Linked DNA regions of Homo sapiens. The protein of the gene in region 3 interacts with the protein of the main gene of each other region in a pairwise test. Each region holds a gene or a part of one and is shown on either strand. Other genes may lie near its edges.

What was found.
Region 1: the proteins of DEUP1 (region 3) and TXLNB interact in binary tests that used the Homo sapiens proteins (3 or more experiments, as listed by UniProt).
Region 2: the proteins of DEUP1 (region 3) and ZFHX3 interact in binary tests that used the Homo sapiens proteins (3 or more experiments, as listed by UniProt).
Region 4: the proteins of DEUP1 (region 3) and DTNB interact in binary tests that used the Homo sapiens proteins (3 or more experiments, as listed by UniProt).

Annotation. Positions count from the first base shown.
Region 1 is NC_000006.12:139,239,992-139,247,018, reverse strand, and holds the end of TXLNB (beta-taxilin), read left to right. Parts: intron 1-2,328; coding exon 2,329-2,424; intron 2,425-3,704; coding exon 3,705-4,493; 3' UTR 4,494-6,958; downstream 6,959-7,027. UniProt on the Homo sapiens protein: Promotes motor nerve regeneration. May be involved in intracellular vesicle traffic.
Region 2 is NC_000016.10:73,038,113-73,045,139, reverse strand, and holds part of ZFHX3 (zinc finger homeobox protein 3), read left to right. Parts: intron 1-7,027.
Region 3 is NC_000011.10:93,389,727-93,396,753, reverse strand, and holds part of DEUP1 (deuterosome assembly protein 1), read right to left. Parts: intron 2,312-7,027; coding exon of another isoform or gene 2,296-2,311; coding exon 2,098-2,295; intron 516-2,097; coding exon 429-515; intron 6-428; coding exon of another isoform or gene 1-5. UniProt on the Homo sapiens protein: Key structural component of the deuterosome, a structure that promotes de novo centriole amplification in multiciliated cells.
Region 4 is NC_000002.12:25,383,555-25,390,581, reverse strand, and holds part of DTNB (dystrobrevin beta), read left to right. Parts: intron 1-2,220; coding exon 2,221-2,380; intron 2,381-3,203; coding exon 3,204-3,293; intron 3,294-3,430; coding exon of another isoform or gene 3,431-3,483; exon of another isoform or gene 3,484-4,220; intron 4,221-4,469; coding exon of another isoform or gene 4,470-4,519; exon of another isoform or gene 4,520-4,555; intron 4,556-5,371; exon of another isoform or gene 5,372-5,516; intron 5,517-6,692; coding exon 6,693-6,746; intron 6,747-7,027.

The DNA.
Region 1 (7,027 bases), on a different chromosome or scaffold from region 3:
GAGAAGATGGAAGCCTGAATTCAATTCTGGTGTGTTCTTGCTCATCAAGTGGTCTTACTCATCAATTCACTTAACTTCCTGAATCTAATTTTTTTTTTTTTTTTGAGATGGAATTTCGCTCTTGTTGCCCAGGCTGGAGTGCAATGGTGCGATCTTGGCTCACTGCAACCTCTGCCTTCCGGGTTCAAGCAATTCTCCTGCCTCAGCCTCCCGAGTAGCTGGGATTACAGGCATGCACCACCATGTCCGGTTAATTTTATATTTTTAGTAAAGACGGGGTTTCACCGTGTTGGTCAGGCTGGTCTCGAACTCCTGACCTCATGTGATCCACCCACCACGGCCTCTCAAAGTGCTGGGATTACAGGCATGAGCCACCATGCCTGGCCTCTAATTTTTTTTAATCTATGCAGATACTACTTTCCCTGCCTAACTCACAAGATTGTGAAGTTAAATTAATACATTTTGGAAGGGATTTTAACTTTTTACATGTATTTTTCAAATATAAGGTGCCAGTATTATAATTTAATGTAATGTTTAAAGCTTGTTCAGTGTCTTCCCAATACAAAATCAGCCATCAGAACTGTGTTTCCGAACAGGGATTGGCATTAATGGTTTTGAGGTGTAGAAAACATCCTCTTAAAATATATTTTTAAAATATTATGACAAATTTTACAATGAGCAACCTGAAGAAGATTGGCACTTGTTAAATGTTACAGTTCTCCCACTTCAGAATGGAACTATCCATTTGCTTAATTTTTTTTTGAAATTCTAGCATTTTAAGATTGGAATAAATTAGAACAGGAAAACATGTTTTTCAAAATTATGTAGTTTTAAGAGTGGAATAAATATTAAATCAGGAGTTCTTAATCTTGGGTCCATTTATGGACGTTAGTAGTTGACCTGAGAACTCTCTAGAAATTACCATAAAAAAAAATGATGCACATATGCACATTTTTGTGAAGTGTGGTCCCATAGCTTTCACCACATTCTTAAAAAGATTGATGACCTTAAAGTTTACAAACAACTGGCTGGGCGCAGTGGCTCATGCCTGCAATCCCAGCATTTTGGGAGGCTGAGGCGGGTGGATCACTTGAGGTCAGGAGCTCAAGACCGCCTGGCCAACATGGTGAAACACTGTTTCTACTGAAATACAAAAAAATTAGCCAGGAATGGTGGCAGGCGCCTGTAATCCCAGCTACTCAGGAGGCTGAGGCAGGAGAATCGCTTGAACTCGGGAGGCAGAGTTTGCAGTGAGCCGAGATCACGCCATTGCACTCCAGCCTGGGCAAAAGAGTGAAAAACAAACAACAACAAAAAAGAAGAAAACAAAGAAGTTTACAAACTACTAACTAATTTAAAATATGATCAAAATTAAAAACCTAGCTTGTCTGTAGAGCCAGGGGCTGACAGTCTTGGGCCCAGCCTCTGGCCTCCGTGGGTACCCAGCTTCAGGCAGCTTGGCACCAAGCAGCGAGTGCCCAGCTATGTTTCATCCAGGAAAACTGCACCTGAGTACATGCCTCGTTCTCCACTTCATCTAAGCAAAGAAGAGATCCTACAAACAAGAATGTGAGTAGCCTCAGGTTCGAAAAACACAGGCTGCATTTTATTCACTTCTTACTTCCTCGTACCCAGCCCAGGGCCTGGTGACCACCAGACATTCTATATGCTTCATTAAATGAAATAAAAGAATGGCAGCCCCACTGTTCTGTTAATTCACCTAAATATTACTCTACCTCTCCGAACTTCGGTTTCCCCATTTATAAAATGGGGGTGAAAATAGAACCTTCCTTGTGGGACTGTTTCAAGGATGAAACAAATAATGCATGTAATCACATTTTGTGAACTCTACCTCACTCTATAAATGTAAAGACCCAGAAAATACAGAGACTGCTTTTGTGCAGCAACTTCTCAGATGTGCCCAGATATTATCAACATTTTAATGGCTAAAAAGGCCATGCCAGCTTTCCCACTGTGATAGTCTTCTATTCAATACAGTAAATATCCTAAATTACAGGCTTGTTCATGGAACTCCATAAAGATATTCTTCTTTTAAATGAAAGAAAAAGCAGTGACAAAACCATGTGCCCCTAAGTCATTTCCCATTTCCTGAATTGGCTCAGGTGCAAATAAGTTTGCTTGCCACTGCCCTAGACGGCTCAGAAATAAATTATGACTCTGCTACAATCTTCATTCTTGACATTGAACATTTGTTTGCTTCAGCATCTGGTAACAAAAGGGCTTCTCCTGGTCTCACATATGGAGCTAATAGCTTCCTTGATATATTAACTTTTCAAGATTAACACACACTCACTCTAATTTCTGTAGACAACTAAGAAAATGAAGAAGCTGGAAAAGGACACAGCCACATGGAAAGCCCGATTTGAGAACTGTAACAAAGCTCTGTTGGACATGATTGAAGAGGTGAGGAAGTTTCTCCCTTAGCTTTAATCCCCTCTGTCTAGTCAAAACATTCAAACTTACGATACAATTATAACCTGGTAATAGTACAAATGGTTATGTGTGAAAAAGAGTTGAATTTGGGGTGGCAGGATGTGACATTTTAAATTGTAATAAGTATAATAAGAGCAAAGGTCATTTAGAATCAGGTCCAGACTCAGAAAGAGTTTTGTGACCCTAAGTCACATGCTTACCTGTTGATTCAATAGCTGTACCCAGGGCAGCTGTCCCCTTTAAGGGCTGTGAATTCCTTAAAGGTAGGATGAGTGTCTTATTTTACTTTAAATTTCCCCAGTGTCTGACACATAACAGGTGCTGAATAAATTAATTAGTTGATTTGAACATACTGCGAGAAGACACCAGCCCAAGAGTCCAGTGCATGTGCTATTTTCTAATATAAACAGATATGGAGATATCTTTTTAATTCCTCCAATAGACATTTAAACACTGATCTCATGCCAGGCTCCAAGTAGGTTTTGAGAGTCCAAAGGCAAAGATACATGGCCCCTGACCTGAGAGGTAGGGCTTACAGGTGAAGGTCTCTCCATGTATAACGAGTGGGGGAAAAAAGGTCTCAAAGGGACAGAGTAGCTCAGAGGTGAGGTGAAGGAGTGAGATAATTAGGAACATTTTCATGCACAAATAGACATTTCTAGAGGAAAAAACTGAACCGTTTGAGCAGCCAGCATCGTGAATTAGTATATGGTGAATTTCTATGGTTATAATTACTGCTCTAACAATTCTTCTCAAATTGCAACCAATTCCAAAGAGATATTACTCATCAACATAAATCAAATGGCTGCTGGGATTAGCACATAGCAGTTTATTCATAGAACAGATAAGGAAGGCATTGCTGAAACCCAAGTCCCAATCCATCTCATTTATCTTGCCGCAAGTCTTGCTTCTACCTTCTAAGTCTCAGAAGCAGAAAATTCATCCATAAGATTTGAGAGGCTATGGACCAAAGCAGAAGGAAGCCTGACCATCTTTCTTTCCCAATGAACAGGGTATGGTGATTAAAGAATCTACCAGTCTAGTACACAATGCCAAAAAAAAAAAAAAAAAAGGAAAGTGATGTCCATGACCAAGCATCTGTTCAGCCCCTACTCTGTAGCCAGGTCCCAGAGCCTAGTAGACAAATTCTGGGACAAATAGTTTTGCTTGTTTCCAGAAAGCATCCTGGACATTTTGCTTATCATGTCATTTCATCTGTGTGTGTATGTGCGTGTGTTTTCACATCACAGAAAGCACTGAGAGCTAAAGAATATGAGTGCTTTGTGATGAAAATCGGGAGGCTAGAGAACCTCTGCCGTGCTTTACAAGAAGAGAGAAACGAACTCCACAAAAAAATCAGAGACGCAGAAATATCTGAAAAGGATGACCAAAGTCAGCACAACTCCGATGAAGAGCCAGAGTCAAACGTCTCTGTGGATCAAGAGATTGACGCAGAGGAGGTTAATAGTGTCCAAACCGCCGTGAAAAATCTGGCCACAGCCTTCATGATAATTCATCATCCAGAGTCAACCCCGCACCAGTCCAAAGAAACCCAACCCGAAATAGGCAGTTCTCAGGAGAGTGCTGACGCCGCTCTCAAGGAGCCAGAGCAACCCCCTCTGATCCCTTCACGGGATTCAGAGAGTCCCCTGCCTCCCCTAACTCCTCAGGCTGAAGCCGAAGGAGGCAGTGATGCTGAACCTCCCTCCAAGGCCAGTAATTCTCCTGCCGGGTTGGGAGCAGAAACCCAATGCGAGGGTCTCCCTGTTGGAGCACAGGCTGATCAGGCGTCCTGGAAGCCAGAGGCAGAAGCTTCCGGTCAGGCCCCACAGGCTCCCACCGAGGCCTCCCTACAGAAGATGGAGGCAGATGTGCCTGCTCCAGCATGCGCAGCAGAAGAGCACGTTGCAGCCATGGTGCCTGCATGCGAGCCCAGTAGGCAGCCCCCACGAGCAGCAGCAGAGGAGCTGCCAGTAGGGGCCTCAGCTGGGCCCCAGCCGCGCAACGTGGCTGACACCAATCTGGAAGGCGTCGACTAAGCCTCACCGTGCCTTCAGAGGCTTCTTCCTGCCTCTTTGCATATTCAGCATAACAGCTTGTCTTCCGAAAAAGGCATTAAGGGCTAGAGATGTCAAATGGAAGAGACTTAGGATCAAGACATTTTTTAATGTTAGGCAGAACACATTCATTCAGACTTTGCTATTTGTTGTCAATTTATAGCTGATTTGAAGGTTTTCTATTTAACACTGGTTGACAGTATAATTTTCCCAAAGGGCAACAAAACATACAGATAGCAAATTTATATTCCTTTTCTGTTAAGATAATACTTAAATTTGTTAATCACCAGTAAGATTTGATGTTTAAAGACTTCCACTGCAATATATAAATACTGAAAATGTGATGTTCTGCTTATTTGGATATATAGTTTAACAAGTTCCATAGTAATTTATGGATGCCCAGGTTACATTTAAACTATACATATACATAATATATACATACGTGTGTACTTATTATATGTATATATACACGTATGTATAGATGTGTGAATATTTGTTTATATACATATATGCACGTATCTATATGTATATATAAATGCATTATTACACATACATTTCTCTCACCCCTTAATGCATTTTTCTCAATGCAGAATATTTAGATGCTAATCAAAAAAATGATCTCTTACTTGCACTTGAGACTATGGTTGACTAATGCTCTATAAATCCGAAGAGAGTTCGGACTATAAGTATTTAGGCTATCATTATGTTGGGCAAAAATAAGTAACCCAATGGTAGATAAATGAATTCAACCAGTTGATCAAATGGCAGAAAAGCAGTTAGACTACAATCTGTGCAGACAGCATGGACACAAAGATGACCACAAGGGGCCCAAAACAGAAAAGAGAAACACAAGCTCACCTCTTGGAGCTGCTTCTCCTACACTTCTCAGCCCATTGCTTTGCCACCCCCTCATGTGCCAGGGCATCCCATTCCAGGCTTCCTGCAAGGAAACGGTTGGAAGTGGGAAAGGGGAGCTAGGGATTGAGGGGTTAAGGGACCTCACACTAAGAAGGGGCTGTGCTTTGATCCCCTGCCTCTTGCACTACCAATGTCTCAAGACATAATATTCATCTCTTGCTGTCAGACCCATTCTATATTCTAAAAGCTTCTGCTCCTTCCTTCCCAATTTCTCCTTTGTAGCAGGAAATTACACCCAGCCCTCATCTCAATTAATGCTAAATAAAGCTATTGTTTTTCCAAAACACAAATCTACACTGGGTCTCAATATCAGTGATGAGGCTTACAAACCAACACGTTTTCTGCCATGAGGATTTCTCTTTAGGCCAGAAGTACAAAACAAAAAAACCAATGGATTTTAACCAAAATGATTTGAAATATAGGTGAGGATTCAGGAGAAGGCAAAAGCTAGAAACACTTGGGGTTGTCAACATGAGTATTACATTAACATTGCTTGATGAGAACCTCTAATGATACTGACAACATAAATTACCTAGGGTAAAGGATAGCTGCAACAATGAAACAGGAAAGAAGAGAGGGAGAGAGAGGAAAGGGAAGGAAGAAAGGAAGGAGGGAGAAGGGAAGAAAGAAACAATGTCTAACCCAACCCTATCTTGAAAGTTGAACTCAAGTAGAAAAATGGATAGAAACAAAATTCTCTAGTACTCATCCAGGAAACCATTCTTCAATGTTGCATGTGGCTGTTTGCCAAGGCACACAAAGTGCTTGTAGGCAGCAACCATATGCTACAAGAATTGTAAACTGCATACAGTTTGTTTGAAGTAGACAGTGAGGATAATAACAAAGTTGCTAGGCAGGAAAAAAAATCAGGAAAAAAGCTTGTCGCTATTTGAGAATCTGTATATTTTTAAAGGCTTAAAATATTATAACCACAGGGTATCCAGCCAAATTCAACATTACTGCAAGTCTTAGAGATTTAAACATTCATTTGATTCAGAGCTAAATATTCACCATAATCCAGGAGGGTCTCCTTCCCCACTGCAGAGGCAGAACGTCCAAGAATGGAGTAAGATTAGTCATAGTAAAGTCTCAGTCTGAATATTTAGCAAGAGAAACAGGCAGCAGAGGAACCCAAAGGCAGTAAATCAAATATTCTAAAACCCAAAGTTCATTATTTTCATCCAAAAGACTTTCACAGAAACACATTACTCACAGCCATGTATATCTTGGACAGAGTTTCAGATGGAATGACTTGTCTGAAATTTGTAAAGCTTAATATAGGTTTTGGGGGAATTATTTTAATATTCAAAGAATGTTTTATTATAGTCCTTTGTGTTAAAATTTAGCCTTACTAATTATAACAATAACTCATAAAGTTCTAAATTCAGAAGGAATGTCTGTTCTTTATCAAGTGTATGTAACTATTTTTTAGAAATGCCATCTACTTTCTAGAAACACTAAAGTTATTGTTTTCTAAGTTAAATAACTATAATTTATATATCTATTAAAAAGGTACTTCTCTTCCCAAATTCTCTAGTACTCATTTTATTTTTTTAACTTTGACTTATTTTATTTTTGTTTTTATTACTTCTATGTTT
Region 2 (7,027 bases), on a different chromosome or scaffold from region 3:
TTTTCTTCCACCTACAAAGTATCAGTAAGAATCTGGAAATGCTTCAGGGCTCAGAGCAGACCCTTACTTAAGAAATTATTTTTATTGCAGAGTTGTAACAGTGTCATCTTAAAAAGTAAATATTTAAGTGACTAAGCAACATTTTGTAAAAGTGTAGGGAACTGGCTTGAATTATTTAAAGGGGAAGAAAGTGAGCTGTCTTTATAAAACTCACCTTTTGGCCAGGCATGGTGGCTCATGCCTGTAATCCCAGCACTTTGGGAGGCTGAGGCAGGCAGATCACTTGAGGTTGGGAGTTCGAGACCAGCCTGATCAACATGGAGAAACCCCGTCTCTACTAAAAATACAAAATTAGCCGAGTGTGATGGTGCATTCCTGTAACTCCAGCTACTCAGGAGGCCGAGGCAGGAGAATCGCTTGAATCTGGGAGGGGGAGGTTGCAGTGAGCTGAGATTGGGCCATTGCATTCTAGCCTGGGCAACAAGAGCGAAACTCCGAAACTCCATCTCAAAGCAAACAAACAAACAAACAAACAAACACTCACCTTTTAAGAGTAACTCACTTGTTTCTCAGCTCTAAGGATTTAGCCTTGACTTACAAGTAGGCAGCAATGATTCTGGTCTGAACAAACTTATATAAACTCCATCTCACCCTCACTCGTACTGCACACTGAAGATGCCTGTCAGTAACCTGAAGAAGTACAGTATGTGCTGTGGTTTATGCTTTCATTTGTTATTAAAATGATTGCTTGCTGTTAGCCTGGCCTATTTCTGTGATGTTTGGGCCTGTTGGCTTGCTCTGGTTCCTAAGGCTGGTGCAATTAACCAGGATGGGGGCGTTACTGTAAAAACACAACAGGAAGGCAGATTCCATTACAGTGAACCTCATAGGGGTATCCAAATGCTCTGGTATGAGAATTTGGTGGTAATGGTTATTATTAGAAATCACAGCACAGCTCAGAACCACCGTCCTCTGCCTGAGTTAAAAAACTATGGTCAGGGGAAATGGGAACCCAGTTTTAATAGAATCTAGGCAAGGGAATTCCTTGGCAGGAGCTAGTTTAAATCATAAAGGGCGCCTGTTCTGTCCAAAGCACAGTGTCCTGTGTCCTCAGGCCACTCAGATTGAGAAAGGAGCACACAGAAGCTACGGTTGTGTCAAACCGCCCCGAGGGAGAGACCCAGGCAGAAATCTTGGCTCATTGGCAAGCCACTTTGAAAATCCAGATTAAAGAGAAGCACTACAAAATCAACAACTGTCAGAGGGCTTTTCTCTATGATTTAAAGTTGACTGCCAGATTGATCTCTTTGAACATGTGCAAAGTGGCAATCAGATGTTGGAGGGCTTCTTTGGGCTAATATGGTAAATGACTTTGATATGGACAGAAACTGAGGACAGAGGTGCAGAGCAAGGCTTAGTGCCGATTGACAGCAGCACTGAGCTGAAGCTTCAGAAGTAGGGAAACGACTGGAATGTTTCTGGTTTTCATTCTTTGGGCCAGGGGACAGGTGGGTGAGGACAAGGCCGTGGTCTAGGCAGTGATGGGGGTGTCTCTAGAGAGTTATTTGCCCAAGGAAAGTACTTTGGCTTTTAACATTTAAAGGGGATTTTTTCTTTCTTTGACGTTTCTGCCTTTCAGCCTTCATTCATGGAGTTTCTTGCTTTTACAAGAATAAGGGCTCAAATAAAAACAGGGAGGGAGACATAGAAAGTTTGCGAGATGGCAAATTCAGCCCCATTTTGAAGCAAGACTTCTGTTTTGTTGGTTTTAACTCCAGCCCGGGCCTCTTAGCAAAATGCCTGGGCTTCATCTGCCTTTTGGGTGACCCCCTCTCCCTGTCCATCAGAGGGTCACCACAGCAGTCTCAACATGAGGATTACTGTGTGGGGGGTTTGATGTGTACCTTTCCAGAGGGGCCTTAGCTGGCTTGCTGTGTCCTGGAGGTCTTAGGTGGTTCTGCTGTGTGTTCTTTGAGCTTTGGTATTAACACATGTGCTGCCTCTGAGATTTGTCCATCCTTTTCCCTCCCTGGAGTCAGGTCTAAAGCTTCCAGTGAGGCGGGCAAAACATCTGCCGCACTCCCACCCCTACTCCTGGCTGCTGGTGGTTTGGGATGAAGCCACTGAAACTCCCTTGCAAGGCCACACCTTGAGAAGATGGGCCGGTGCTGGGATGCCTCTCACTTTCTATTCTGCTTGGTTTCTGGGAGGAAGCTAATGACATAAGGGGCCTAAAGGCTTTCTTAACTGGTGACCTGGAGTTTAATTGTAAGTGGGTCTTTCGGGGCAGCAGTTAGGAATGTATGGATCACCTTCAGTCATCTGCAGGGAGACTTGGACTGGAAGTGGGAGAACTGGCTCCACTGGACTCTGAAAAAGGCTGTGGAGTTTTCATCTGCTGCTGATTTCATCCACTGTCCCAAAAGTTATCTTGGCCACAAACCTTTGATCTGGGAGTGAGACCCCTCGCCCGATGCTTCTAGGGCAGGAGTCAGTGACTGCCTATACCCGCTGTTCTGTGTAGATGGGAGAGGGTGTTAGTTATTGAGTAGGGCTGAGTACTTGGGGTGATTTGGGGTGGTTAGGCATGATTGGGGCTTACACACTGGAGGGGTCATGTGTAGGCTTCTTGATGGGGTTCTTTCAGGAAGGAGGAGGCAAAAGAACAGTTTTGCTTGTTTCTTGGTTGTTCCTGACTCCATCCAGGAGTGTGACTGGAGAAAAATTCTTCTGAGTGTATCGGTTAGGCTGGCTTTTGGATAGATGGTCCCCGGTGCCCATTTCTATCATAGGCTCTGCATTTCAGTAGGAAGATTCTAGTTCAGAGGCGACTGCCTCTGTCTTCTCATTTGAATCTCCTTAGTGGAGAGGCAGGAGGCAGATTAGCCGAGTGCAGAAAGACCAAGGGGCTTAATCTGATAGTTGATCTCAGCCCTGCATCCCCTGAAAAAGTCATATAAGTGCCTGTTCAAATATGGAAGTCTGTCTCCCTTCAGTATGCAAACATCGCTTTTCAGAAGCATTTAAACTCCTGAAAGTCTATAAAAACCACATATGTGTAGACATGAACTGAGCTGCTCCCCATGCTTCCAGTCTCCTGAGTGGCCTATTTCTGATGACTTCTCCCTTCCCAACATCTTTGTCCCGTGGAAGTTGCTGAAGAACACATGGGTGCCTTTCTTCTCCATCTCCCAACTTCTCTTTTTTCTTTTTTTAAACAATTGTTCTTAACTACTCAAGAAGCAATGCAAGCCTCTTCCACCATTTAAGGCCCTGCTTCCTAAAATGCTCTTTGGCTCAAGGCCTTGGTTCTTAATGTACATTTGGCCTTGACTGGAGGAATGGTTTCTGCTTCCCTTTTAACAGCTCCGCTTTTTTTTGTGGAGTATCTGCATCAGCGTTAAAGTGTCAGGTCAACTTTTGGACACTTTAGAAGAGGCTCATGGATTTCAGTGTGTGCGGCAGGAGGTTGGTGTCACTACTCAAGCGACTGCTTTTAAATGCCATCTCTGTTCTGATGGAATCTTGAATAGTGTCCCCTTATGTTATTTGATAACGTAATTGAGATGGGCATTGATGAAGACTTTCAGTCTGTGTAACTGACTATATGAATGTGTGTTACCTGGGCCCCTGTTGGTTTGTTTTTCATAAGATAGTATTTTGCCCACTTAAAAAATGTTGTTCAAGTAAAGAATGGCAGAAATGACGGTAGTAGGGTCACCTCAGCCCTGCACACCCTTTTTTAACGGAGGCAGTCGAAGCTGGTTTTTCCTTCAACAGATAGGAAATCCAGAGGTATATTTGGGGAAAGCAGAGAACTTTTACACCTTGTGGGAAAGGACTGTCAATATATTTTGCCCTTGCTGGTGAAACTATAAAAATTGTCCAGACAGTGGAAAAATTGGGTGACAGAGGAAATCCTGGTGCGGACTCCCAGATGTGTAACTGGAGGGAGGTGTGGTCTTCCTCATTGTTTGTTTGAAGGTAGGAAATAATTACAGAATAAAACAGGGCAGGGTCTGGCTGAGGACCAGAGCACTGCTTGTGAATCCCCTTCAAATGGGGACTCAACAGTGAATGGGAGAAGCAAAGGTGAATCAAAAAAGCCCACTCTTTGGAAAGGTGGCCTCTGCTCTTTCCTCTGCTATGGGCCTTACACCCTCTGCTGAGGCCATCAGTGTTACACCCTCTGGTGAGGCCTGAGCTGTGTGACTTTGGACCAGTAATTTAACCTCTTTGGGCCTCACTTCTTTCGTCTGTAAAATGGGCCTAATGCATACCTTACATTTGTAGTGGGAAGTAAATGAAATAGGAATCAGGGCTTCATACCACTTCACATACTGAAAAGCTTCTCCGGATATTGGCTGCCATCTCCACGCCCTTTTCATTTCTTTCTTTGCTACTGATGGCCTCTGCTACCTTTCGTTTCTTACCACCTTGGAAGAAATAAACTAAAAGGTCCAGCAATTCTCTTCTTCCCCATGGGGTGGAAATAGAGCCAACTCCTTTTGACATCTTTGCAACCGTGTTCAGAAGTGAAAGAGTCTGAAATAGTTACAGTGTCCCCCATCCACCCCAGCCCTCCCCTTCTGTCCCCCTCCCCAGGCTGGCAGGCGGCCCTCCAAGTGAGCAGCCTACTCAATGACCCACCTAGAGAGGCCTTCCCCGGCTGGCTTGTGTATGCTAATAGGCCTGACTTGTCCTGGCTTGTTTGTAGTGATTTGTGGAGGCATTTATATGCAAATACTATCAACTTGCAGAGTTAATTATCATGTGCCTCCCCTCTACCCCCTCCTGCTCGGCCTCCCAGCCTGGCTGGGCTGTTCTCATTCAGCACCACGCTCTTCCTGTCTTGGCCTCGCCTGTCCCTTGCCCTGTCCCCTTCCTATACCTGCAGGCCCCATCACAGCTCCTTTGCTGCTCCGTTGCCTGTCACAGGCACCCAGGCCTAGCCTGTGTGGTCAGGCATGGTGAACTGGGCATGCCAGTGACTCCCCCAGTTCAGACTCTCTGTTAGAGGCCTACTCTTGCTTGTGGGGGAGCCTGCCTTATGTTGCTTTGAGTTTTAAGCCCCATGTTTACCTACTAGCTTGAAAAACAGAGCTGCCCAGACATAATCAACCCTTGACACTCAACCCAGTCTGGCGACAAAGCGATTATAGTTTTTAAATTATTAGTAGTATTTTCATTTCCTCACATTGCTTATACCGCTCAAACTTATGACCAGTTCCGAGCTCTGGAGAGAAGCCATTTTGCAAAGGGATGTCCCCTCCTGCTCCTGGATATCTGAGTATTAAAAATTTGCTTGGGTTGTGCATGGTGGCTCATGCCTGTAATCCCAGCACTTTGGTAGGCCTAGGCAGGATTGCCTGACCTCAGGAGTTTGAGATCAGCTTGGGCAACGTGGTGAAACTCCATCTCTACTAAAAATAAAAAAATAAAAAAAGAGATACTTGGGTGGATCTCAGGCCTGGTCACTTCCTGGTTGTGTGTTGGCACTGTTGATGTTTGGGGATAATTGTTTTTGGGGGGAGTGGGCCACCTTGTGCATTGTAGGACATTTAGTATCCCTGGCATCTCCCCACTAGATGCCAGTAGCACCTTCTTCCCTTGATGTGACAATCAAAAATGTCTGCAGGAATTGCCCACTGTCCCTTGGGGAGGCAAAATCGCCTCCAGTTAAGAACACCTGAAATAGAGGTTACATTTGCTTCTCCTGGTCTAAAACAATGGCAGGTTCCCGGCCACTCCCCCCATTTAGACACCTTCACTGCAGCCTGGGAGTTGAGCAGCCTCTGCGTATGTGATTCCACCTGATACCAGATGATGCTGTTTGCTCAATTTTACACTGGTCTTTTTGGCATTTAAAAATGAAGAATCTGGGCTGGGTGTGGTGGCTCAAGCCTGTAATCTCAGCACTTTGGGAGGCAGAGGCAGGCGGATTGCTTGAGCTCAGGGGCTTGAGACCTGCCTGGGCAACATAGGGAGACCCTGTCTCTACAAACTTTTTTTTTTTTTTTTTAATTAGCTAGGCTCGGTGGCATGTGCCTGTAGTCCCAGCCACTCAAGAGGCTGAGGCAGGAGGATCTCTTGAGCCCAGAGGTTTGAGCCCAGGGGTTCGAGGCCAGCCTTAGCAACATGGCAAGACCTTGTCTCTACAAAAAAAATACAAAAATTAGCCGGGCGTGGTGGTGCACGCCTGTATTCCTAGCTACTCGGGAGGCTGAGGTGGGTGGATTGCTTGAGCCCAGGAAGTAGAGGCTGCATTGAGCCGTGATTGTGCCACTGCACTCCAGCCTGGGTGACAGAGTGACATCCCGACTCAATAATAATAATAATAATAATAATAATAGTAATAAAAAGGAAGAGTCTTTCCTTTTAGAGCATGGTAATGTGCTAGCACTTGAGGTGGTAACATTTGCACCTCTCTAGTGCTGTCCAATAGAGAGAGAGAGAGAGAGAGTACAAGCTTATATGTAATTGTACATTTCCTAGTAGTCATTCATAAAAAGTAAAAAGAAACAGGTGGAATTAACTTTAAAACAGATATTTTCAGCAACCCACGATTTCACCATGATGTTCTGGTCTCAACGCTCAGAACCAGCCCCATGTCCAGTGCTCAGAAGCCGCGTGCAGTTGTGGCCGTCATATTGGATGGCTTAGTTCTCAGATGATTCTGGGCCTTTGCAGCCATGACGTCAGGTCGTTTTCTACTGTTACTGAGTCAGGGAGGAAGTTTTTTTCTTCTGTTTATTCTCTGAAAGGTAAGGCCTTCCTTGGCTGCACAGCTGCAGCTGAGAAGCGGATTCTGAAGGGGCAGGGTCTCTAATCTCTAGGGAAGCTCCCCCAGCCTCCACAGTGGGGAAGCCCTCTAGACAGGATTTTGGGCTGAGCCTGGATAGTTGGGGGGGTGGGGGAGTCAATATCCCGAGGGCCCCGTGGACTCTCGCACCACACAGACTAATGCTTCAGGTTAATTTTGTGTACAAGGTCCCTTTTGTTGGACAAGGGGATGAAAGTCCACAGC
Region 3 (7,027 bases):
ATCCACTGGGAAAGTGACAAGCAACAAAACAAGTCAGAACAAAATACGAACTAAATGTGGCATTCATTCTGACTGGGGTTTCAGGGGTGGCTTCGTTGAGGGGAAGATTGGCACTTGAATCAGGCCACATAGGATGTAGGATTTCAAAGGCAACAGCAAGAAGAAAAGCAAGGAAATAGCATGCTTGGCATATTTGAGGGAAATGATCAGAATTGAGCCCAATCCAACCAAAGAACAAGGGAGAAAACCAGACATTCCAATGTTCTAGCCTGAGGATAAAAGTAACCTCAACTGAAGCACAAGATAATTTACCACCCAACTCCTTCATGTCTAACACACAGCAAGTGCTCAATAAATGATGTCTAGGTTAATCGTGACCAATTCAGTAATCTCTTTGTTCAATTTATTGAATGATGTCAGCATATTACCATGTATTCTCCGGGGTCTAAATCTCCCATCATTCCTTTTAGATGTGTGTTTTCAGTTCTGACAGCTTTATATTTCATATCTGAGACCTGAAATTAGCAGATAAAAGGCAAATGTAAAATTCATAATAAAAACTCATAATTCTATTAAAATTTTGTCTTGTGAATACAAATATTTTCTAAGTGTAATGAAGGGAAACACTTCTTCGGTACGACCAATAACATTCAGGTATTCTTATTTAGTTCTCCTGTCTTTGGCAGGCACCACTTTACGTCTTTTTCTGATCAATGCTAAACTACAAGCATATACTTTCAATAATGATTCATTTAGTTTTGTCCTACAATCCCAAAATTCCATTTCTGGTTTCTATTTTCTATTGTATGCAAATTGTCACCAGAAAAAGCACATGTTAAAAGCATGTTTGAGTAACTGTCCATTAAATTTATTCAACACCTGATTAATTTTTACAATAGGCAATACATAACTTTCATGTTTAATTTTGTTCTGATATTTCTGCCAAAATTCCATCTTTTTTAGTGACTACTTCATTTTGTCTCTCAATTTATTTTATCTTTCCCTGATTTATTCTACTTGACAGGACTTGGATATGGTATCTGTCCTTTTACTTCTCTAGGACTCATTTCTGTATAAAACACGTGCCTTAAAAAGATTTAATTTTGTAAATTACCAATTTATGCTCATTGACAAAACCTAGAAAACGTACAAAAATATAAAGGTGAAAATAAAAATTATTCATAATCCAACTAGCCAGATCACTGTTAACACCTGTAAAATATCCCTGCCTATACAGGTACAACCAAAGAGATTATCCCATCTGTGCTGTTTTCCTGTGTACTGCAACAATAAATCACGGTTTAAGGCTTACAACTGGGCAAAGGCTAAATCTTTTCTGTTTTCATAATTCACGATTTTAGTCATGTTATTTGTGAAGTGACCCTCATATGCCTAGAAAATTATTAAATGATGCTCTCAAAACCTTTAGATTTGGGGTAAAAAAGCAGATAAACCCTGTGCTCTCAATAGTAGGCCATCCATTTGATCATGAGTAAGGGATGGAGGGAATTTAAAAAATAAATAGGCAGGAAGGAAAGGAAGGATGTAGAAGTTACTTGTAGTATTTTAACAGAAGAATGTTACAATTGCTGTTTTTCCTCACGTACCATGCTGTGCATTGACTGCATGTTCAGTAAATATGAACTAATTTTCATGTTTCAACATCCATTTGTAAAAAGCCTGAAAGAAATACATGAAGTGTGGGGGAGGGGTAGGAAGTGTTGAAGAAGAGCTGGAATAGAGACTTTTTTTTAAAGATAAAAATGTTAATGGAAGAGAAATACAGAAAAACATACTCAGGAAGAAATATTTGATTAGAGTGTACTGTGGGAGGTGATCAGAATATAGGTTACAAGAAAATGGAAAGATGAGATTTAATGAAATTGTCTTGCACTGTCATTTCCCTAGTCCTTTTTGTTGGTGACACTTTGTGTTATCTCTGAAAGGTTTTATGTAACACCACAAAGCATTTCTGTGAAGCTAGTCTCAGAAATAATACCAAGAAATGTAATGTTTTCATTAGTCAATAATGAAGGCTACTATTGGCACTGAGCAAGAATGTGCCCTAGACAAGTGCTATTCTGCCTGCTTGCATACCTTTTGTTTTGCTAACATTTTTTCTTTTATTTCTAATTCCATTTTTAACTGTTTTTCCAGAAGGGCAGCTTTCTTTGTGACAGTTGCTATAGTGATCTCCTTCTGATGAAGCTCTTCTGTTAGGTCAGAGATTTCATTCCTCATTCTTTCCTGCTCAGAGTTATGGTACTCTTCCACCTGTTGGAGTTGGCTTCTTATCTGCAGCAGATAGAGACTGGAAATATTATTGAATCCTTTTATTTATAGAGTAGCTTAAAATTTTACTGGCCATGTTCAGTCCTTCTATTCTGAAACTTTGTCAGGGCCCACTTCACCCTCCTTTTCTGATCAATGCTAAATTAAAAACAGATACATATAATAATGACTCATTACCTTTTTTCCTTCCAATTCCAACATTTCATTTCTCACTTCTATTTTCTGTTGTATGCAAATCATCACCTATGACTGATACTACTTTGATAACCACTTTGAGAGGAAGGTAAAGAAAGTATTATCAAGCATTTTCATGGAGAAAAAAATTGGCTTTAAAATGGTTACATGATTTGCTCAAAGTCATAAAGCTAATAATCGGCAAAGCTAGGACTGGAATCTAGGACTCTTGGCTTTAAATTCAGTGCTTTTTTAAAACTAAAATAGGCTGTACTGTTTGTAACTAAACATTTGTTTCTCAGAATCACATTACAGTAAACTTCAAACAATGTCTTCATGAAAACTCATCACTTCCCTTACTTAAGCCTCTTATTTTCTGAATCTTGGCTAAGCTTCCATGTTACAAACCTCTGGATTGTCTCTGACTCCTCTCCACCCTTGTCCTCCCAAACCTGGTCAGGCAATGAATTCTGTCCATTCTATTTCAACCTCTTTTAAGTCTTGCCTCTGTCTCCATTCCTACAACTGCTGTCTTTGTCTAGCCTCTTAGCATCTTTCTAGAAACCATTACTGTTTCTAATTCTTGAGACTTAAAGTACATAATCATCCGTCTAAAAAAAAATCATAGTCCATTGGGGAAACAGAAAAATAGACGATTACAACACAGTGTAGCAATTAGTGTCAGCAGTATGTAGTGGCAGTGTGTTTAACCCAGCCTAGGGATGACAGGATAGGATTCCCAGAGGAAGGGTCATCAGACCCAAAACTGAAGGATGAATGAATGCCAATTAGAGATGCTCTAGCCGGGCGTGGTGGCTTGTGTGGGAAGCTGAGGTGGGAAGGATGCCTGGAACCCAGGGGGCAGAGGTTGCAGTATAGTGGGCTGAGATCATGCCACTGCACTCCAGCCTGGGTGACAGAGCAAGACCCTGTCTCAAAACCCTGTCTCAAAAAATAAAAATAAAAAAAATAAAAAGGCATAGAAAAAAATAGAACATATAGATGCTCTATGAAAAGTAAAAACATTAGCCGGGTGTGGTGGCATGTGCATTCAGTCTCAGTTAGTCGGGTGGAAGGGGCACTGGGGTGGGAGGATCCCTTAAGCCTAGGAGGTCTAGGCTGCAGTAGGCCCTGATTGCACCACTGTATTCCAGCCTGAATGACACAGCAGGATCCTGTCTCAAAAAAAAAAAAAAAAAAGAAGGAGGAAGAGAAGAAGAAGGAGGAGGAGGAGGAGAAAGAAGTAGAAGGAGGAGGAGGAGGGCTCAGAGGAGGAGGAGGAGAAAGAAGGAGGAGGAGGAGGGCTCGGAGGAGGAGGAAGAGGAGGAGGAAGAGGAGGGAGGAGGAGGAGGAAGAGGAGGGAGGAGAAGGAGGAGGGATCCCAGGCAAAGAGCTCAGTGAGTGAAAGCATGGCACACTCAGTGAACTAAAAGGAGTTTAGGGTAGCTAGGAGTTAGCTGCTCTGAGAAATAAGGCTGGAGAGTTAAGTAGAGGCTAGCCACAAAAGAAACATGAATTTTCTCCAGGGCACTTTTTTAAAATGGATTTTTTTTTTCATTTCACCTTTAAACATTTCAGTATATATCTTTAAAAGAACAAGGCTCTCTCTTTTTTTTAAATGTAGCCAGAATGTTATTACAATGTCTGTAAAGATTAAGAATTCCTTAATATCATCAAGTATCTAGGCAGTATTCAAATTTAAGCTTGTCTCAAAAATATAATAAATGTTGTTTAAGTTTAATTGAATTAGTATCTAAACATGATCCATTCATTGTGACTGGCTCATATATCTTTTTAAAGCCTCTCTTTTTGTGTGTTCTAAGTAGTTTACATGCATCATCTCATTTAATCCCCACAATGTCTCTCTATTTTGCAGACTACTGTATTTAGCAGATTAGAAAATTAAGGTGCATAACTTTTCACATCACATTTCTTGTGAAAGGCAGTCTAATTCCAGGACCTGTGAACTATTGTGCTCTGCAACCTCTGTGGGAAGGGTCCTGGAAGGTGTGGAAGGTGGTTCACATTTGGAAAAACCTGAGTTTTAGGGGTTGACACCTACAGAGAGATTGGAAAAATCTGGGTTTTAGGGGATGACACCTAGAGTGAGATCAGAAAAAGCTGTGTTTTAGGGGATGGCACTTAGAGTGGGGTGACCTAACATGGAAAGTACACATGTCCAGAGGCAAATGTGATCACCATCAGGCTTTATGCCACCAACCCTTCCTTCATCTGATTCTATTCATATTACCAGCATATTCAGAGTTTCAGAGTTGGATATGACCTTAGAAATCACATGATCGAACCTCATCATTTAACAGATTTTTTTAAAAAAGAGTCACAGGAACGAGAACAAGGCGGAAACTAAGAGACACGAGCACAAGTATCCTAACCCGGAGGACAATATTACAAATCTCCTTTAAATCTCTTCTGTCTCCAAGTTTTTACCTTCCAATTTATTTGATGAAATAACACGGTCAGTCTATAGTTTGTCCCAGTATGGATTTTGCTGATCGCATCCCTTTGGCATAGTTTAACCTGTTCCACTTAAAATGGAACTTTTTTTTTTTTTTTTTTTTTGAGATGGAGTCTTGCTTTGTCACCCAGGCTGGAGTGCAGTGGCACAATCTTGGTTCACTGCAACCTCCACCTCCCGGGTTCAAGTGATTCTCCTGCCTCAGCCTCCCGAGTAGCTGGGACTACAGGTGAGCACCACCATGCCTGGCTAATTTTTGTATTTTTAGTAGAGACAGGGTTTCACCATATTGGCCAGGATGGTCTCAAACTCCTGACCTCGTGATCCGCCCACCTTGGCCTCCCAAAGTGCTGGGATTACAGGCGTGAGCCACGGCACCTGGCCAAAATGGAACTTTTAAAATATAAAAAAATGAATATACTACTGTGAAAAAGGAGTAAACTATTTTTATTATTTTCACAATATTTAGATGTTAACACAACATACTATACTGCAAAACTTCTTTCTTAATGAAAGAAGAAACTAATTTACCTGAACTCCAAATGACTTTTGGTTTATTGAAAATGTGAATGTTATCACAAAATAAATGGCTAAAACAGTTCTAGACTGGAAAAAAGGAAAAGAAATAAAATACTTGCAAGATTCATAATACATAGCTCTTGTTAGTTTTATTACAAAAGAATTAAAATGCTCTTCAGAAACACTTGGAAGCTTTTTTTTTTTTTTTCCTGAGACAGAGTCTTGCTCTGTCGCCCAGGCTGGAGTGCCATGGCGCAATCTCGGCTCACTGCAACCTCCGCCTCCCGAGTTCAAGCAATTCTCCTGCCTCAGCCTCCTGAGTAGCTGGGATTACAGGCGCCTGCCACCGCGCCCAGCTAATTTTTGTATTTTTAGTAGAGACGGGGTTTCACCATGTTGGTCAGGCTGGTCTCAAACTCCTGACCTGGTGATCTGCCTGCCTCAGCCTCCCAAAGTGCTGGAATTACAGGTGTGAGCCACCATGCCCGGCCACTTGGAAGCTATTTATATAAAATTCATTTGTTACCTTTTTTTTGCACAGCATTCTGGTATTTAGTGGCCTCCAAGGGTCTATAAAGAATTCTGTGCCTCATACTCTCTCCCACCATGTCAAAACTGTGCAAAGTCAGTAGATTCTTTATATTACTCAAAGTTTTATTACTTTATCTAAATCTATGAGGTTAAGAATCATGTAACTATACTTTAGGTGGCTTTAACCAATCTTTTATCATTCACTGGGGACACCAGTAAAAAAGAGTTTTTCAAAGTTATATTTTTAAGTCAGCAAAATAAATTTTGTGGGATTATATGGCATTAAAGTGTTCAAAATATATGAAAAATGATCACTGATTCATAACACCTTTTCTCTACTTAACCTCTGTTAGTTCTCTGACAGTCAACTCTTTGGCAGACAGTACCTGTCTTTCATATTATTGTGTTTCCTATAGAAATTAGCAGAATAGCTATAGTTCTCCTAGATACTCAACAAATGTTTGTTAAATTTGTACAAACAACTGAATTTATGACCCTATATATTTATGGGAAAATTTAGCCTTAATATTAACTCATTCTCTAAGTATTTAATTTACTGTGTGTCAAGCACTATGCAGTGCACTAATTGATAATTCAAAGCCACACCCAGGTTTATTTAACTTTTAATTGTTTAGATTTTATAGCATTAAATATTCTGCCTGATCCTCAAACCTAAAGACCAGAGAGGTGGAGAATAGCTATGATAAATTCACAGAAAGAAGGCCATTACTGGATTGTACTAGAGGGAGGAGAGAATCATACTCTTTGTAGGAGAGTAAAGAACCACAAGCTCTTTAAGGACAGTGCCCAGGACTTACTCATCCTTGTATTTCTAGCTCCAGCAGAGTTCCTGGCACATGTTAGGTGCTCAGTGAAAAAATGTGGGTGCAATAAATAACTACTGAGCCAATATTTACTAGATACTTCCTCTGAGCTAGATCCTATTTTAAGCACTTTAAGTGCATTATCTCATAGATTTTACCTTAGGGTAAGAGTATGGATACTGGAGCCAGATTGCCTAGATTGAAACATGGC
Region 4 (7,027 bases), on a different chromosome or scaffold from region 3:
ATCCCATCTACTTTGGAGGCTGAGGCAGGAGAATTGGTTGAACCCAGGGGACGGAGGTTGCACTGAGCCAAAATCGCACCACTTCACTCCAGCCTGGGTGAAAGAGTGAAACTCCATCTCAAAAAAAAAAAAGAGAAGACGAAAAGAAAAAGAAAAGAAAAAGTTTAAAATTTCAATGAAAGCCAGTTTATCTGTTTGGTTTTGTTTTTACATATCATGGTTTGGGTGTTTTCTTAGAGAAATTTTATAGTTTTAGCCCTTATAGTTACTATGATCCATTTTAGTTTTAGCTCTTATAGTTACTATGATCCATTTTGATTTAGTTCATATTTATTTGTATCATGGAAAGATCTCAGAAAGCATGCTAAGTGATTAAAGCAAATTGCAAAGTGATATGAGCAGTACAATACCATTCATGCAAAATTTAAAAGCGTGAAATACCATCTATTATTCATAGCTATACATGCACATATAGGTTAAAAGTTTCACAGCAGAATTTTGATAGGGGTTGCCTCTGAAGGGAGGAGAGGAAAGAACTGGAACAGGAAAGAACTGGTGGACAAAAATATTGCAAATTTTTCTGCAATATTTTTAGGTTGAAATACATTTGACACAATATGAAGTTACCAATTTGGGGTGGTTAATTATGTTGTACTTTTTAGTTTTCTGTATTTTTTTTAACTTCTCAAAATACACATACACACACACACACACACACACACACACACACACACAAATGATTCAAAGTAAGAACCACAGAAAACAATCCATTTCTGTTGAGTTTGGTGGCCACACGGTTGAAGCACTGCGGTGGGGTGTCGTGCGTCCAGCCTGTCCACCTGTTCAGGGCCAATTCTGTTTGTATATGGGGTTTCTAGCTGAGAAAGCTAGAAGAAGGATAACTGTCTTCATTTGAATTCACTCTCACACTTTGGCTTCTATTTTTTCCAGTTTTGCTTCCACAGAAAACCCTAGTCCACCTTCCACACTCAGTTCCCGTTGTGCTGAAGAGCTACAGAGCCCACATCTCAGTGAGCGGCCCTTGATTAGTTTTCTCCTTTTATTTATTTTATCCCATTGCTCCAAACTTTCTCCACAACTATACCAGGGCCTCCCAAGGAAAGCTTGGTTTCTGTTTACCATGTGTCCTTTCTCACCTCGTCCCCGCGGGGTGGCCCCGGACAGCCTTGCTGTACATGTGCAGTGCATGTGGCATGACTGGCCCCATGGCCCCGCTTGCAGCCTGCAGCCGAGCTCCGCACATGCTCAGAGCATGCCCTGCAGGAAGTGGGGTCACAACCTGCAGAGTGCACACTGCCACCCTTGGAGTCAAGGGGTTGTTCCCATGCCTCCCACTGGCAAGCTGTGTGGCCTGACACAACGTCTCTTTCCATTCTTCTTCTTCTATAAAATGGACATAAAAATATATACCCTGGCTTGGTATGGTGGCTCACACCTGTAATCCTAGCACTTTGGGAGGCGAAGGCGAGCAGATTGCATGAGCTCAGGAGTTAAAGACCAACCTGGACAACGTGTTGAAACCCCGTATCTACTAAAAATACAAAAAATTAGCCCAGCGTGGTGGCGCACACCTGTAGTCCCAGCTACTCGGGAGGCTGAAGCAGGAGAATCTCTTGAACCTGGGAGGCGGAGGTTACAGTGAGCTGAGATCGTGCCACTGCACTCCACCTGGGCAACAAAGCAAGACTCTGTCTCCAAAAAAGATATATACGTATATAAATATATACATACACACACACACACACACACACACACGTATGTCCTTTCCACTCACAGGTTGCCGGCAGCAGCGGGGGGAGGGGTCCAAATGAGAACATGTACATGAATGTGTTTGCAAACAAAATGAAAGCTGTTTGCATGTTACTTCCTGCCCTGCAAGCCAAGCCCTTCTAGAGCCCTGGCCCAGTCACGCAGCTCACTCTGTCTCCACCACTCTGTGCCAGCCTCTTCTTTCCCTCCCATTCTTGGTCTTGTTCTTAGGATGTTCTCTCTCTCTGCCCTGCACGCCCCCTTCCTTTTTTCCTTTTCTTCCTCTCTCCAGTCTTGGAAGCAGCCTAACTCCTTCCTTTCAAGTATGATCTTGTACCACTGAACTGAGGCCCACTGGCTGGCTCTGGTTGATGGAGAAAAAGTACTTTCTTCCTTCCTCAAAGAGGTCAGGTACTTGAGATAACGTATTTTCTGTCTTTGAATCTCCAGGCTCAGGCCACAGGGTCACCACATACATCGCCCACCCATGGAGGCGGCCGGCCAATGCCCATGCCAGTGCGCTCCACGTCTGCCGGCTCCACCCCCACCCACTGTCCGCAGGACTCGCTGAGCGGAGTCGGGGGAGACGTGCAGGAGGCCTTCGCACAAGGTGAGTTTCTGGAGCAGAGTTCAGCGGGGAGCTGAAGGGATGTGCAAACACGGACAAGATTCCTGCTGAGGTTTTTTCCATTTCTGTTTTGTGCTCTTTGCTTGGAATGATCAGATTTTGACAGACAGTGTAAATAAGTCAGGTGCTGGCCCCTTCTCATGAGACGGGCTGGTCTCCAGCGGGAGGGCTGCAGGCTTCCTATGTGTGCCAAGAACAGGCCTCCTGGGGTTCTCTGCCCTTTTTTCTGGATTATTGGAAGTGCTTTGTCCTTTGGGCTTTGTCTCCTCCAGAGGAATTGGATGGAATAATTCCCTGGCCTAGAAGGGACTGTAACAGGCACTGTAACTGGGACCGTGCTGAAAGCACAGTATGCACGCCATTGTCACAGTCATCGGGGGAGCTGGTGACCAGCAGTATTAAGTAGTTGGGTGGGGATTCAGAGGGAAGTCCTGCTGGGGCTGGAGGTGAGAAGGGGAGGTGGTAGTGGTGGTTGTGGAGAGTACAGCCCCACCCCCACAAGGCTGAGGAAGACCTCGGTGGAATGCTTATTCTGGAACCCAGCTCTGGATTGTGTGGTGGCGGCAAAGCGTGGAGTTGACAGGATGCTGCTCCCTAGGTAGAGAGGGCAGAGGGAGAGGGACCAGTGGGCTGGTGCCTCCTGCCCCCGGTGTGCCTGGGAATGGGTGGAGCTGCTGTGGCCCCATCTCCCCTTAGGTGTTCCACACCTGTGTTCTCGGGCCTGGCAGAACTGAGGCATTTGCTCAGCCGTCTCTTCTCCACGCTCACCCACCCTGGCATCCCCATCTGCTCTGCCTCTCCTCAGGTACGAGGAGAAACCTCCGCAATGACCTGCTGGTGGCAGCTGACTCCATCACCAACACCATGTCATCCCTGGTGAAGGAGCTCCATTCAGGTGAAACCCAGAGCTCCCAGCCAGCTTCCTGGCCTCCCCTGCCTTGCCCGCGCCCTTCTCACTTCCTTGCCAGCACCGGCAGAACCTCACCACCCAGCTTGCACCACCCCATTTCATCACCTAACTTTGCCTTCTAGGAACACACTGGATGTCTCCACCCAGAGAGCCTCTGTCACACAGGATCGCGTAGGGGCGGTTTCACATTCAGGCCTATCTCAGGAGTGCATCTTGTGGAGCAAGCTGAATGTAGAGAAATTCAGACCTTTCAGTGCAGGCAGGCCCCTTCCTCACTTACCTCGTCTTCCATCTGTACTTTGTCCACAGCCGCTCTCTCCCTAGGCCTGACCGACCACCTCATTCTGAAACTTCCCTGGAGGTCTGGAGCGGAATCAGCCAGGAAAGCTCTGGACCTTCCCCTGCTGCCTTTCTGCTCTCTCCTGTTTGATTTGTTTTTGAAACCTATTCCCTCCTTTTGTCCGTGACCAGGCTCTGATTTCACCTGAAGTTCATGACCTGAGTCTGTCGCCTCTTCTGCTCCTTGTGTTCAGCTCATCTGTGACTTCTTTCTCAGTCTCTCCATCACCTCACCAATTCAGTGACTTCCCAAAGACCTTTACCTCGTGGCATTTCACCTTACATAAAACCCAGGAAAGAGAGAGAAAATAAAAGGCCATTCACGTATCCTCCTATCTCCAGGAATCCCCATGACTCTACCAGTTACGTAGGGGCCAGAGAGTCACTAACGATTTCACAGCGGTGGGGTCTCCATGTTTTGTGTTAAACTAATGGTTTCCCTCCCTAAGCGCTGTAGGTCACTCACACTGATGGCTCTCTTTTGTTTCTTTCCACCTAATGTAGTGCTTTTAAATACCTTGAAGTAGCTTAACAGGATTATTAAATAAAAAGATAAAGCAGTTTTTCCACGGACGATTCAAACACATACACTTATTCAAACACTCTTAGGGAAGGCAAGCCTTGGGTATTTTTCAGCCCTTCGTAGGAGAAAGCTCACATGTTTAGGGTTGTCATGGGACTGGACAGAGCCCCCAGCTCTGCTCTCAAGTCTGCCTGTTTTCATACAGACCAAAGTGAGTGTATAGCCCAGCTTCGTCTTTCCAGTCAGTTAAGGTCAGACGCTGCCTCTCTTGTTTGATGGTGCCACCCTCTCCATTCTAGCACTGTTTCTCAACCCCCATCAGAAGCACGGCCCCGCTCTGTACACATAAACAGAAGAGGCGACAGCCTTCAGGATGACCTCACAGGTGATTAGAAGGCGCTTTCCCTAATGCAGCTCCCCACAGATGTCAGAAATCCCACTTTTAGAGGAAATTTCTCAGGGAATTTCGGGCCATGGGAATTAACTACACTTGTACTTCATGGCCACTTATTAGAGTTTATGCAAAATAAGTGGCTTCTGCGTTCATCGTGCTAGGGTGAGAGGTCATTAAATACCATTAAGTGGAAAGCACATAGAGACCAAATAGCTTCACAAAAATGTAAAGCTTATAGGAATCCTCAGCAGTGTCTCATAGTAAGAAAGGATGGTTTCAACAAAATTATGTAGTGTAATTTGGAAGGTGCCTTAGAGAGCACATTGTCCAGTCCCTTACTTTAGAGATGTAGCCTGTGCTTATCAGAAAAGTGGTCTGCCTAAGGTCGTGCAGCTTGAAGGGGGAAAGCTGGTCCTAGAACCTGGGTCTTCAGAGCATCAAGCCAGAGATCTTACTCCCCTCCAGGACAAGATAGCAAACCCAGAGTCCCAGAGGCCCCTTTCCCTGATGCTGTCCTCTCAGTCACTGAAGCCTGTAGGTAGACGTGGACCAAAGCCACACATGGCACGGTATCCCTCTAACATGCAGACATAAACTCCCTTTACATGTGAGGGTGCCAATTTCTCAGTGAATGGAATAGCTTCACCCATCACCAACATGTTTTTACTGTCTCCTTGACAGTGACTTGACAGGTTTTTGTTCCAATGAGAGGACATACTCAGATTATCTTTACATATATTCTATACAGTGTATACATACTGTATATACATAGCTTGTAGTCCTCATCTTTATAAAGTTTTTTCACAGATAATCGAATCCTAGAATTGGAAAGGATCGAGGCCACAGGCACAGTGGCTCACACCTGTAATCCCAGCACTTTGGGAGGCTGAGGCAGGTGGATCACCTAAGGTCAGGAGTTTAAGACCAGCCTGACCAACATGATGAAACCCCGTCTCTACTAAAAATACAAAATTAGCCTGGCATGGTGGTGCATGTCTGTAATCCCAGCTACTCGGGAGGCTGAGGCAGGAGAATCGCTTGAACCTGGGATGCAGAGATTGCAGTGAGCCAAGATCGCGCCGCTGTAGTCCAGCCTGGGCAATGAGCAAAACTCCATCTCAAAAAAAAAAAAAGAAAAGAAAAGAAAAAAATTGTAAAGGATGTTAGAAGTCATTTAATCCAACTCGCCACCCAATAAAACAGTCCTCTGAATATTTCCAGCGAGCTCATTCATGATCAACTCTAATCACTGGAAACTTCTTCCTCAGTGGGGAGCCAAAATCTCACTTTCTGTAACTGATTTATCCCTGTCCTCTCAAGCTACCCAGGATAAGCTCAGTCCCTCCTCTGCAGGCTCGCCTTTCACGGGTTGGATGGCAAATGACAACCCTTCCTAGTTTTCTCCTCTGTAGACTGCTACACCCAATTCCTTCAACCTTTCCAAACGTGACATGGTTTTCTCTTACCAGCCTGCTTGACCATACCAGGATGTGGCCATTTTCCAAGGCTCCTATTCAAAGTACATGCCCAGGGCCCAGCACCCTGCTCTCCATCACAGGGGATCTTGTCCCTGCAGAGCACAAGGCATCTGTGACCCTCTTGAGTGTCCCCTGGAAAAGCACCTTAGACGGCATTAGCACTTCCCACATAGCCACTTTGCACTGTGCGGTCATTTTAAGTTTATCATCAGCTAAAACATACGGAATTTTTTTTTTTTAACAGAACCCCGTGTTAATCTAGGTATTCCCCCACCATATATTGTATGGTCACTTTCTTAAACCTGAATGCAAGACATTAGATGTCTCCCTGGTCATCACCACCTGAGGGCAGACAGGCATAGAACAGAGGCACGCAACCCCACACTGCACGCCCCCAGCCCTGGTCAGGAAAGTGAGCGATGTGACCGCACTGCTCCCTTTGGGCTGTGGTCTTACGGGCTCCTATTCAGCAGTGCTGGGGCGTGGGCCGCACAAGTGCAGACTGGTGAGCTGAAGCACCCTCAGAGGCCTGCAGCCAGGAGCTGTTAGCTAGAGTTTCCTCCCAAGCCTCAGCAGTTGCTTTGTTCACCCTCCTTCTGTACTTGTCCTGTGCCGAAGGGTCACTGGCCTCCTTGGACTTGTTTTCACAGCAGAGGAAGGTGCAGAGGAAGAAGAAGAGAAGATGCAGAATGGGAAAGACAGAGGTAAAGGCAGCTCAGCAGGACTGCTCGTTTAAATGGGGAGCCCGAGCTCATGGATCAGCCGCCCCCCACTTTGTTTCTGCATTCCTCCCTGCCACCACCTTTCCCAGAGCTTTCGGACCCGAGGTCCCTGTACCTACTTTTCCCATCTGACAGTCAGGTTTTACCTTCCAGGTGACAAGGTCAGTCGATCACCAAGAGCTTCCTCATTTCCTGATCCTGGGATAGGTAGTTGGGATACAGGAAGTAGATACAAGTAGAACACAAAAGATGACCCTTTGACT